Regions from separate parts of the Homo sapiens genome. Here region 2 is linked to region 1. The links come from fine-mapping of genetic effects on gene expression. A gene starts in region 1. The other region holds a variant in brackets. All regions are shown on one strand. Distances are between the middles of the regions. Region 1 holds the start of RUNX3 (RUNX family transcription factor 3). Region 2 overlaps RUNX3 (RUNX family transcription factor 3).

Region 1 (4,373 bases):
AAAAACAATAAAGACCTTCCCCCAAATATCACGAAAACAAGAAGATGGAATCTCGAGCTTCCACACCAAAATCCTAGATCAACTGCTTACATAAACTGTGTCCCAAGAAATCATCCTTTCAATGAAATCTAAGCCAGAGCTGTGAATCAGCTCAGTCACTATGATGTGGGGTGCAGTTCCCCTGTTGTCTTCGGCTGCAGCGAAAGAGGAATCAACATGCTCCTAGCAACGAAGTCTCCAAATGAGAAAGAGTAACAACAATAATAACAACAGGGCTGCTACCCCCACTCAATTTATGCAAGAGCTGTTTAGGGCATGAAATTTGGCCCTGAAATGTGGACCAGGCCCAGTTTATTGGCCTCTGCAGAGCCTAAATTCGTTATGCAGAGAAAATGCAGAATGCAAAACTCACTGGTGTTTTGAAAAAGGCCACCAGAAAACCCCTTTAAAGTGAGAGTGGGGCTTTTGATAATGGAAGGATGCACCTGCCGGGAATTGCAGGATGGGGGTGGCGATGTCCCCCTAAACACCATCTCCCCCAAATCCCCCACCCCCAGGAGCACGGAGAGGCGGATGCCTTTTGAAAAAGAATCAGACTTTAAACAGAGTCACAACTATTTAAACGTGGCCGCCGCGTGCAGGGACTGGGGATCCATATGGTAAAAATTTCAAGGAGAAAATGTTTGGGATCTGATTAAGAAGACCAGATTTCCTGTCAACATCCTGTCTTCTTTTAATTTCAAAGACTCCTTTTAAGCTCCAAGTGACAGTAAAACCTCCGATCTGACGATTAAAGTCACACGGGCCTCCCGCCCCTCCCGGCGAGATTTCCCCCACTGGTATTTTAAGATGTCACCCGGGAGACCTCAAAGAGCCACTCTTCCTTTTTTTCCCATTTAGAGTCGTCTTAATGGGAGCAGGGACGGCCTCAGCTTCCAGCCACCTCGGGCAGCACCACCCCCAGCCGCCGGCCCTTCCTGCCCTGCCCTTTTCTCACGGCAGCTGTGAGAGGTTTAGGGGAAAACCGAGGCGTTTTCGTTTCATCTCGCTGCCCCCTTAAAAAAATGAAAATGAAACAGTCGCCTACTCCCTGGCATAAAGAAAAAGGTCCTCTAAATGGCTGGGGGCTGCCAGGGTTAGGGGTCCCCCAATCTCAACTCGCCATTCGGGACGCATAATATCCCCGAGCAAACGTCTGGAGAGCAGTGCCCCGATCCCGGCCTAGCGCCGTCCGGTAAAATTTCGGAAGCCCGAGGGTGTGAGCAGGAAGCTTTTGCGAAGCGGCGCGGGAGGAGGGGTGCTGGAGGCGGAGGGTAGGCCCTTTCACCGTTCGCACCCCACCCGCGGTGTCCTTGCCCCTGTCCCGGGATCCTCTTCTCCGTTACCCGCAGGGCTGTATCTGAGCGATCCGGGTTAGGGGGGCGCAAAACCCCATCCGCCCATTTCCGCACCAACGTCTCTACGCAAGGCGCCCCAAAACCCAGGTGGAGCGGGGCAACCCCGTTAAAAGTCATTCCTGCAGGGCGCATCCAAAACGGAACGCCGAGGTCCCGGAGCCGAGCGCGCAGCCAGACTGAACCGGGTGCCCGGGTGTCGCCGCGGCGTCTCGGGCACCTCCCATCCCCACTGCTCCCGAGGCTCTGGCTCCCGCAGCTCAGACGCCCGGAGCCCCAGGGCCGGCGCCCTCCCGCCCCGGGTCCCGCACTCACCTTGAAGGCGACGGGCAGCGTCTTGTTGCAGCGCCAGTGCGAGGGCAGCACGGAGCAGAGGAAGTTGGGGCTGTCGGTGCGCACGAGCTCGCCTGCGTGGTCCGCCAGCACGTCCACCATCGAGCGCACCTCGGGCCGGGCGCGCCCTCCGGGCCCCACGGCCGCCTGCGCGCTCAGCGCGCCGCTGTTCTCGCCCATCTTGCCGCCGCCGCCGCCGCAGGGGAAGGCCGGGGAGGGAGGTGTGAAGCGGCGGCTGGTGCTTGGGTCTACGGGAATACGCATAACAGCGGCCGTCAGGGCGCCGGGCAGGCGGAGACGGCGCGGCTTCCCCCGGGGGCGGCCGGCGCGGGCGCCTCCTCGGCCGCCGCTGCCGCGAGAAGCGGGAAAGCAGAAGCGGCGGGGCCCGGGCCTCAGGGCGCAGGGGGCGGCGCCCGGCCACTACTCGCCAGGGCCCGCCCGCTGCGAGGCCTCGCTGGCCCGACGGCCGCCCGCAGCCTGCCCGGCTAGTCCCGCATCCTCGGCGCGCGGCCCCGCGTGCGGCCGCCCCTCGTGGCTGTCCCGGCTGCCTGGGCCGCGGCGGGGCCCGCGCGGGGCTGTGCCGCTGCCGCCGCCTCCCGCCCCGAAGCTCGCCCGCGGCCGCCCCGACTCCGCGGCCGCAGCCCCAGAACAAATCCTCCAGAATCAAGTGGCGGGGCCGCGGCCGCCCGCGCGGGGTTAGTACCCCCGGGGCCCGCGGGGCGGGGCTGGCGGAGCGACGCGTCGCACAGCCAATCGGCGGAGCCCCCATCGCGGGCACCTCGGTGGCGTTCGCGGGGAGGAACGGGGCCTGCCGGAGGCCGCCCAACGGGGAGGGGCGGAAGGCGCCACCCCGCGGAGGAGGCCCCAGTGCCACAGCCCAGGGCCCCCGAGAGCTCTGGGAGCCCGGGGCAAATGCTAGAAATTTGCTTAGAACGTCCGGGTCCCACGGAAGGCGCCCTTGCCGCCCTCTCTCGGGTCGTAGCTCCCTGACGCTGGGGCGCAACCCCTTCGCTCCTCCTCCCCGCTGGCCGCGGCCGGGCTTCCCCAGCTCTTGCTGCTTCGGGCCTGTGACTTCTGCAACCCCGGGCTGGGGGCCGCGGGGTCTCAGGGCCGGTGACGCCGCACTGGGAGCCGCCCCAAAGAGGTTACTCACCTCCCTCGTCCCGCACATTATTCTGACCCAAGAGCCTCCACCCCACACGGGATTTTGCGCGTCGTCCACGCCCGGCCGGCGGCCTTTGCTGCTCCCAGCCCTGCGCGGCTTTGGTCCCAGCCTCGGTGGCCCCTGTGCCAAACCGGGGACAGGCGGAAGGGAGTCTCCTAGGGACCCTAAGTAGCCTGGGGCCAACAACCCCTTTCCTCTCTGCTCTCCCCTCAAAACAAGTTTCAGGATCTTGCAGGCCTCGCGGCGTCGTTCTTCGTTGTGGCGGCCTGTGGCTCTTTGAAAAACACGACGAGGCCTGCAAAATGCGTTTTTCTTTTTTTCCTTTACGCATGTAACCACGGTCCTGCATCGTGAAACGGTACGCGCGTCGGTGGCAAAAGAAAAACAGCAGTGGCTGCAAAGCTAAGGGCCCTCGCTTTCAGAGGAGAGAATTTTCTTTCTCCATGCGGGTGGAAAGTGGCCTCTGCGGGTCCAACCCCACTTCTTCTTGGGCCCGTGCGCTCCGGCTGCGCCGCAGGGACCGCGGACAGCTTCGCCAAGGCACTGCCTGCCCGCCCGGCTCCGGGTCCCCGCTCCCACTCCCAGCCGCGTGGCCCAACCTCTCCTGGGCTTCACTGCAAATCACCCCTTCCTCTCCCGCCTCCTAAGTCTGTCGAGCAGACCTAGGGGCCGGCTACAGTTGGGAGGGCAACGGGAAAGATCAAGCCACAATCATTCCGAATTATCGCCCCAGACACCTCCCTAGACTCTGGGGAACGAACGCGTGCTGAGCCTCCCCGCCGCTTTGGAGACGGGGCTAGATTTTCGTTGCCTCCGGCTCTCGACAGGTGCAAAACAATGAATTCCAAGCCTCGGAAGCAAAGAAGCTTAGGATCCGACGGTGGCCGCAAGATCTCATCATGGATCTGACCCCTGCTCAGCGCGCGCCATTTCGTCGTTGCCAAACGAAATCAAGCCCCGCGTGCGCTCCAGGGGCGAAGGACTCTGGACTCACCCCGACCACCGGGAGAGCTGGCCCCTACCCACCTCGGGACCTCACAGCACGCCCTCAGGCCGTGTCGAAAGGAAGGACGGCAAAGGTCCCTTACTGAACCTTTTAAGAGAGCCTGCGCCTGGCAGTTGTCGATTGCGGACCCAGGCCCGCGCGCCCTCGGACGCGCTGGCACGAGCAGCAGAACTAGAGGAAAGCGAGTGATCCAGCCTGGGCGCTCCCACCTCCGGGAACGTCTCCGAGAAGGCGCAGCGCGTCGTGGCCAGGTAGGGCCCTGGCCGGGGGCGGGCAACACGTGCTGCCCTCGAGCAGGTTGCGGGACCATGACCCGCTGTTTCAGGTGGTGGTAAATTCCATTTGTCGAATGGTTTCGGTTTGCACCGTGCCCTTTGCTTGTTCCTCCGCCTGATTTCTCCCTCTCCGCTTACGATGGGTTCACAGACAAGTTTCCAGAGAATGAGGGACTCTTGTGGGCCCTGGCACCTGGCGC
Region 2 (4,373 bases), 25 kb before region 1:
CCGAGGTGCCTGGAGGACAGCAGGGAAGAGGTCAGTTCCAGCTCGAGACAACCCCAGGAGGGCTTCCTGAAGAATGACCTTGGGCTCTGGTTCCCAAGGCCCATCTGGGGGACCCCTAGTTCTAGACCTGGCTCTCCTCTTCCTGCCCTAGGCTGCCCGGGGCCTCCCCCGCCAGGACTCCGAACACAGACCTGCCGGGAAGCTGGTTGGAGCGTGCCCCGGGCCAAGAGGGGCCATGGGAGCCCCCCCACAGCAGCAACAGAACAGAGGAGGGGGTCTATTCTTCTTTTTAAATCCTCCTTCCCAGCCTCGCAGAGGAGAGGCCTAGGATGCGGTGGTGGGGCTGAGGGCAGAGTCAGCTCAGGCCTCCCAGCAGCCCTGCCCAGGCAGGTTCCTCTCCCCACCGGCCCATGTTAACAGCTGGGAAGGCCGTGGATGTGTAAAGGGCTCCAATGACCGTGTGAGACTGGGAGTTGGAACCCGCTTTTGAAGACAAGAAAATGGAGGCAGAGAGAGAGCAAGACTGAGTCTCTGTGGCAGAGAAAGGACTGGTTCTCATCACAAGGCCTCTGCTGGGGACACACGTGCCTCTCCTGCCCAGGTGCAGCACGCGGAGGTTCTGTGCGCTCACACCTGGGTTGTGGGCACTGAGTTCACAGGAGCTCTGGCCTCCACCTCACCCTGGGCCTGTGTCTCTGGAGCCGACTCGTGGCCACACAGTGACTGGATGCCACCCTAACCTGCCTTGGCAGCAAAGTGAGACAGCAGTCAGACAAACTTGGGGACCCAGACCCCAACCTGGTCACAGTGTCCAGCCCAGACTCTGCCCCTGCTCCCCCAGGAATGTGGCTTCTCAATGGGCTCCAAGGCAAGGGTGTTCCATCCTCTGTCCCCAACTTTTGTCATCACAGACCCCCAAAACCTCAGCATTCAAAGGGGCTCAGGGATTGAGTCTAACACCCTTGATGGGGAAACTGAGGCCCAGACAGGGTGAGGCACTTCCCTCAGGGTCACACAGCACATTGGACCTGGCACACAATCCTAGGGCCTCTGGTCCTGAGCCCCAACACGTACTTGAGAGGGAGCTGTCCCGTCTTTGAGGCAGCACAGGATCAAGGCTTACTGTGTGGCTTCTGGAGCCGGACAGTTATCCTGGTTTGGACACTTACTAGCTTTGTGTCCTTGGGCAAGTCACTTAACCTCTCTGCGCATCAGTTTCCCCATATAAAACATGAGACGATAACAGTTCATCAGGATTCAGTTAATTCACATCGAGTACTTAGAATGGCACTGGGCACAGAGCAGGGGTCCATGAGGCTTTGCAAGGCCACTGTGGCTGTGGTGTCTCTTACTCTGGGTACCCAGGAGAACTGGCTCATTCAGGGCCCTGCCAAGTTGAGGCCCTGGTGCAGGGCCTCCCTTCTACTCTGGCAGCCGGGGGAGGTGGATGAGCCCCCAGCAGTGGTCCAGAGGTGCAGTCTGTCCAGCCCAGCAACCCCTCTGTGTCACCCACCAAAGGATAAGGGCCGGTGCTAGCCGGAGTGGGCTCTGCCTGCCACGCCGAGGCTTGGCTGAGGACGGAGAGCTATGAGCCTGAGGTGTGTGTGACTTCGGCTGGGACTTGGAACTTCTCGGGGCTTTGGGGTCTTCCCAAGTCAGCTGGGGTATGTTTCCCTCAGCAGCGTACTCTGGCCCTGGGCGTGGATCCGAACGGAGTGATGCTCCTGGCTTAAGGTAAGAAGATGTGGGGACAGCAGTCTGGGTGGCGGGGGCCTTCTGGGACATCTGGGATGTTCCCTAGTAGGTCACTTGGCTGTCCCGGCCCCTTGAGGCCGAGAGCCTCCGAGGCACCTGGCTGCCAGTTTTCATCTGGGGAGCCCCTCGGGGGGAGAGGTCCTGTTGCAGGTGCTGGGCACGTCAGCACAGCTGAGATGGGTGGGGTGGAAGTGGGTGCTGGCCGCCTGATGGGAACCCCATTCTCAAGACGAAGGAAACAAATGGGGACCGCAGGATACAACGGCAGGACTGTGCCCCTCAGAGCTCACGCGGGCTGCAGGGCGCTGGGCTGGGCCTCCCTGGACCTGCCACCATCCCCTCCAGCCTCTTTCCTCAGGGCCACCACCCCTCCTCCGGGGTGGTGGGGGAAGTACCTGCCCTCAGCACTCCCTCAGACCCCCCAGCAGCTTCCTTGGAGCTCCTGTACCCCCACCCTGCGGCCTCGCAGCCCCAGGAAACCCGAGCTGCCCGGGGCACTGTCGAGTGGCCAATCCCAACAGTGGAAAGAAATGTTTATTTTCTTCTCCAGATTGTCCGGGCTGCTGCATGGTGGCTGAATGAGCCCTTTCAGCTGTGAGAAGCCCCCATTGTGGGCGGCTGCGGCTGGGGGCTGGGGCTGGGGTATGGGAGGTGCTGG[G/T]GTCTCTGCACTGCTTGCCAGTGACCAATATTGGAGGGTCAAAGCACTTAACAGGCACCGAGGGAAGTGGTGGTGGGGTGTCCCAAGGGGGATCCCCAGGAGGGAGTCCGAGGGCAGAGGGAGGAGGGCCTGTGAGAGTGACTTCCCAAGCCTAGGTCTGCCAGCAACCCCTCTTTGTCAGGGACCTCCTTCTCCCCACTTCACAGATGAGAAAACTGAGGCTGAGTTTAAGTGACTTGTCTAAGATCATACAGCCAATGCCTGGCAGAGCCTGAATTCCTAGCCTGGTCCAGCTGACTGCAGAGTTCATGCTCGCCCTGTCCTGGTCATCCGAGGCCCTTTCTCTCACCCAAAGGGGATGGGCCTGAGGATGGAGATGCCTGGCTGCCTGTGGCCCAGTGCTGTGGGGGGCTAGCGAGGGACTGGGCCAGGCCTCAGGAGGGAGCAGGCAGAGAAGCAGAAGTCAGCCACTGCCCCACACAGGCTGGGCTCCTTTCCTCCCAGCCCAGGATGGAAGCAGCAGCTGTGCCTGCCGTGGGGCCAGGCATTGATTCCCAAGCTGTGCCCACCCAGCAGTGGATGGGCAGATGTGGGCTCTCCTTCCATGGGGGCTGGTGGACAGGAAGCCACTGTTCACCCCACCTCCTGGATTCTGGCTCCCCCGCTGAGCCCCGATCCCCTGGCCTGGCTCTGTCCATGGCAGAGAAAGGCTGGCTCTCAGGCTACTGCACCTCGACAGATGCTGGCCCATGGGTAGCAGAAGCAGAGGCAGCTACGCGGCAGGGGTGGGCGTGAGCACAGCGTGCAGGGCTCCTTCCGCTACCTCTTGAGAGCAGACCTCCAACTCCTGGGCTCGAGAGCTGAGAGTCTCAAATGCACTAGCTCCTGGGCTCAGAGAGGCTGGGCCTGGGGCTTCTCCCAACCTTGGCGTCTCAGCAGGACCAAGGCCAAAAGTCCTGAGCCCAGGCCAGAAGGGGAGGGGTCCTCTCTTCACACTGAAGGCCTGCATCCAGCCCCTGGCTGCAGCACTATGCCTGGAACAATGTCAGTAGAGAGACCCAGTCGGCCCCCACCTCAGCGTGGCACCGGAAAAGGGGGTGGGGCAGGCAGACCGGTTGGCAGCCCTGTTCCAGGCCCCTTTATCTGTCCCCTCAGAAGTACAGAAAGTTCTTGGGAGCAGGTACTGTGGAGACTGTGGACCTGGTCACAGATGGGCTGTGTGACCCGAGGGTGGCTCTGAACCTCTTAGGCCTCTCAATTCATTCATCTGCCAAGGGGTTCTAACCAGGCTCTGGGGAATTGAGAAAGAATGGGCACAGTCCGTGACGGCAGCCAGCTGCCTGCCTCTGTCCACCCGGCCACCAAGCACCCTTGGCACCCCACTTAGCCCAAGGGCCGGCTGTGCACACAGCCTCCCATGTCCCCAGCTCACTGACTGAGAGAACAGAGGAGAGATGCAGCCGGCAGCCGTTTAGTGAGCGGCTACTATGCGCCAGGCACCTCGATACTCCAGAAGACCTGCCTGAGGCCTGGCTGCAACTGTGCTTGCTGTATCCGTCTAGGCAGTGGAGATGGAGACCCCAGCTCGGTCTTCCCTTCCACCTCAGCTCCTCCTGTTTGGGAGGATGCTCTGGGCAGGGTGGGAGACCTTTCCCAGGAATGCTATGTGCCTCTCTAGGGTTGGAATGTCACTTAACAGTGTGCAAAGTTTGTGTGAGTACAGTAATGTCATTTGAATGTCATCCCAGCCCTGGGTGGAGGCATCCGCCCCAATCCACTTTCAGATGAAAAATCGCAGGCTGTGGGGCAGGGGTGGGGAAACTGTACATGGCAGGGGCGAGTCTGTCACGGCTCCTTGGACAAGTCATGCCCCAATTTTAATAGGGGCACTATGGGGTTAACCCCATTTCCCCAGGCACAGTGAACTCCTGGTATGCAGATCCCTGGGGCCAGGCACCAG

What was found.
Region 2: its variant is fine-mapped to the expression of RUNX3 in testis (GTEx, PIP above 0.99).

Annotation. Positions count from the first base shown.
Region 1 is chr1:24,927,878-24,932,250 of GRCh38, forward strand. RUNX3 (RUNX family transcription factor 3) reads right to left here and starts at 2,399. Exons shown (of 5, transcript NM_004350.3): 1 at 1,710-2,399. The coding sequence starts at 1,991. It overlaps RUNX3-AS1 (RUNX3 antisense RNA 1), which reads left to right and starts at 2,580. Exons shown (of 4, transcript NR_183341.1): 1 at 2,580-4,149. RefSeq lists enhancers at 605-1,339, 988-1,167, 1,340-2,073, 3,513-4,102 and silencers at 1,638-2,077, 2,278-2,747.
Region 2 is chr1:24,902,658-24,907,030 of GRCh38, forward strand. RUNX3 (RUNX family transcription factor 3) reads right to left here. Exons shown (of 5, transcript NM_004350.3): 5 at 1-9. Among named protein-coding and RNA genes, the nearest start is that of MIR6731, 15 kb to the right of the region's middle. The variant G/T (reference allele first, on the strand shown) is at 2,414.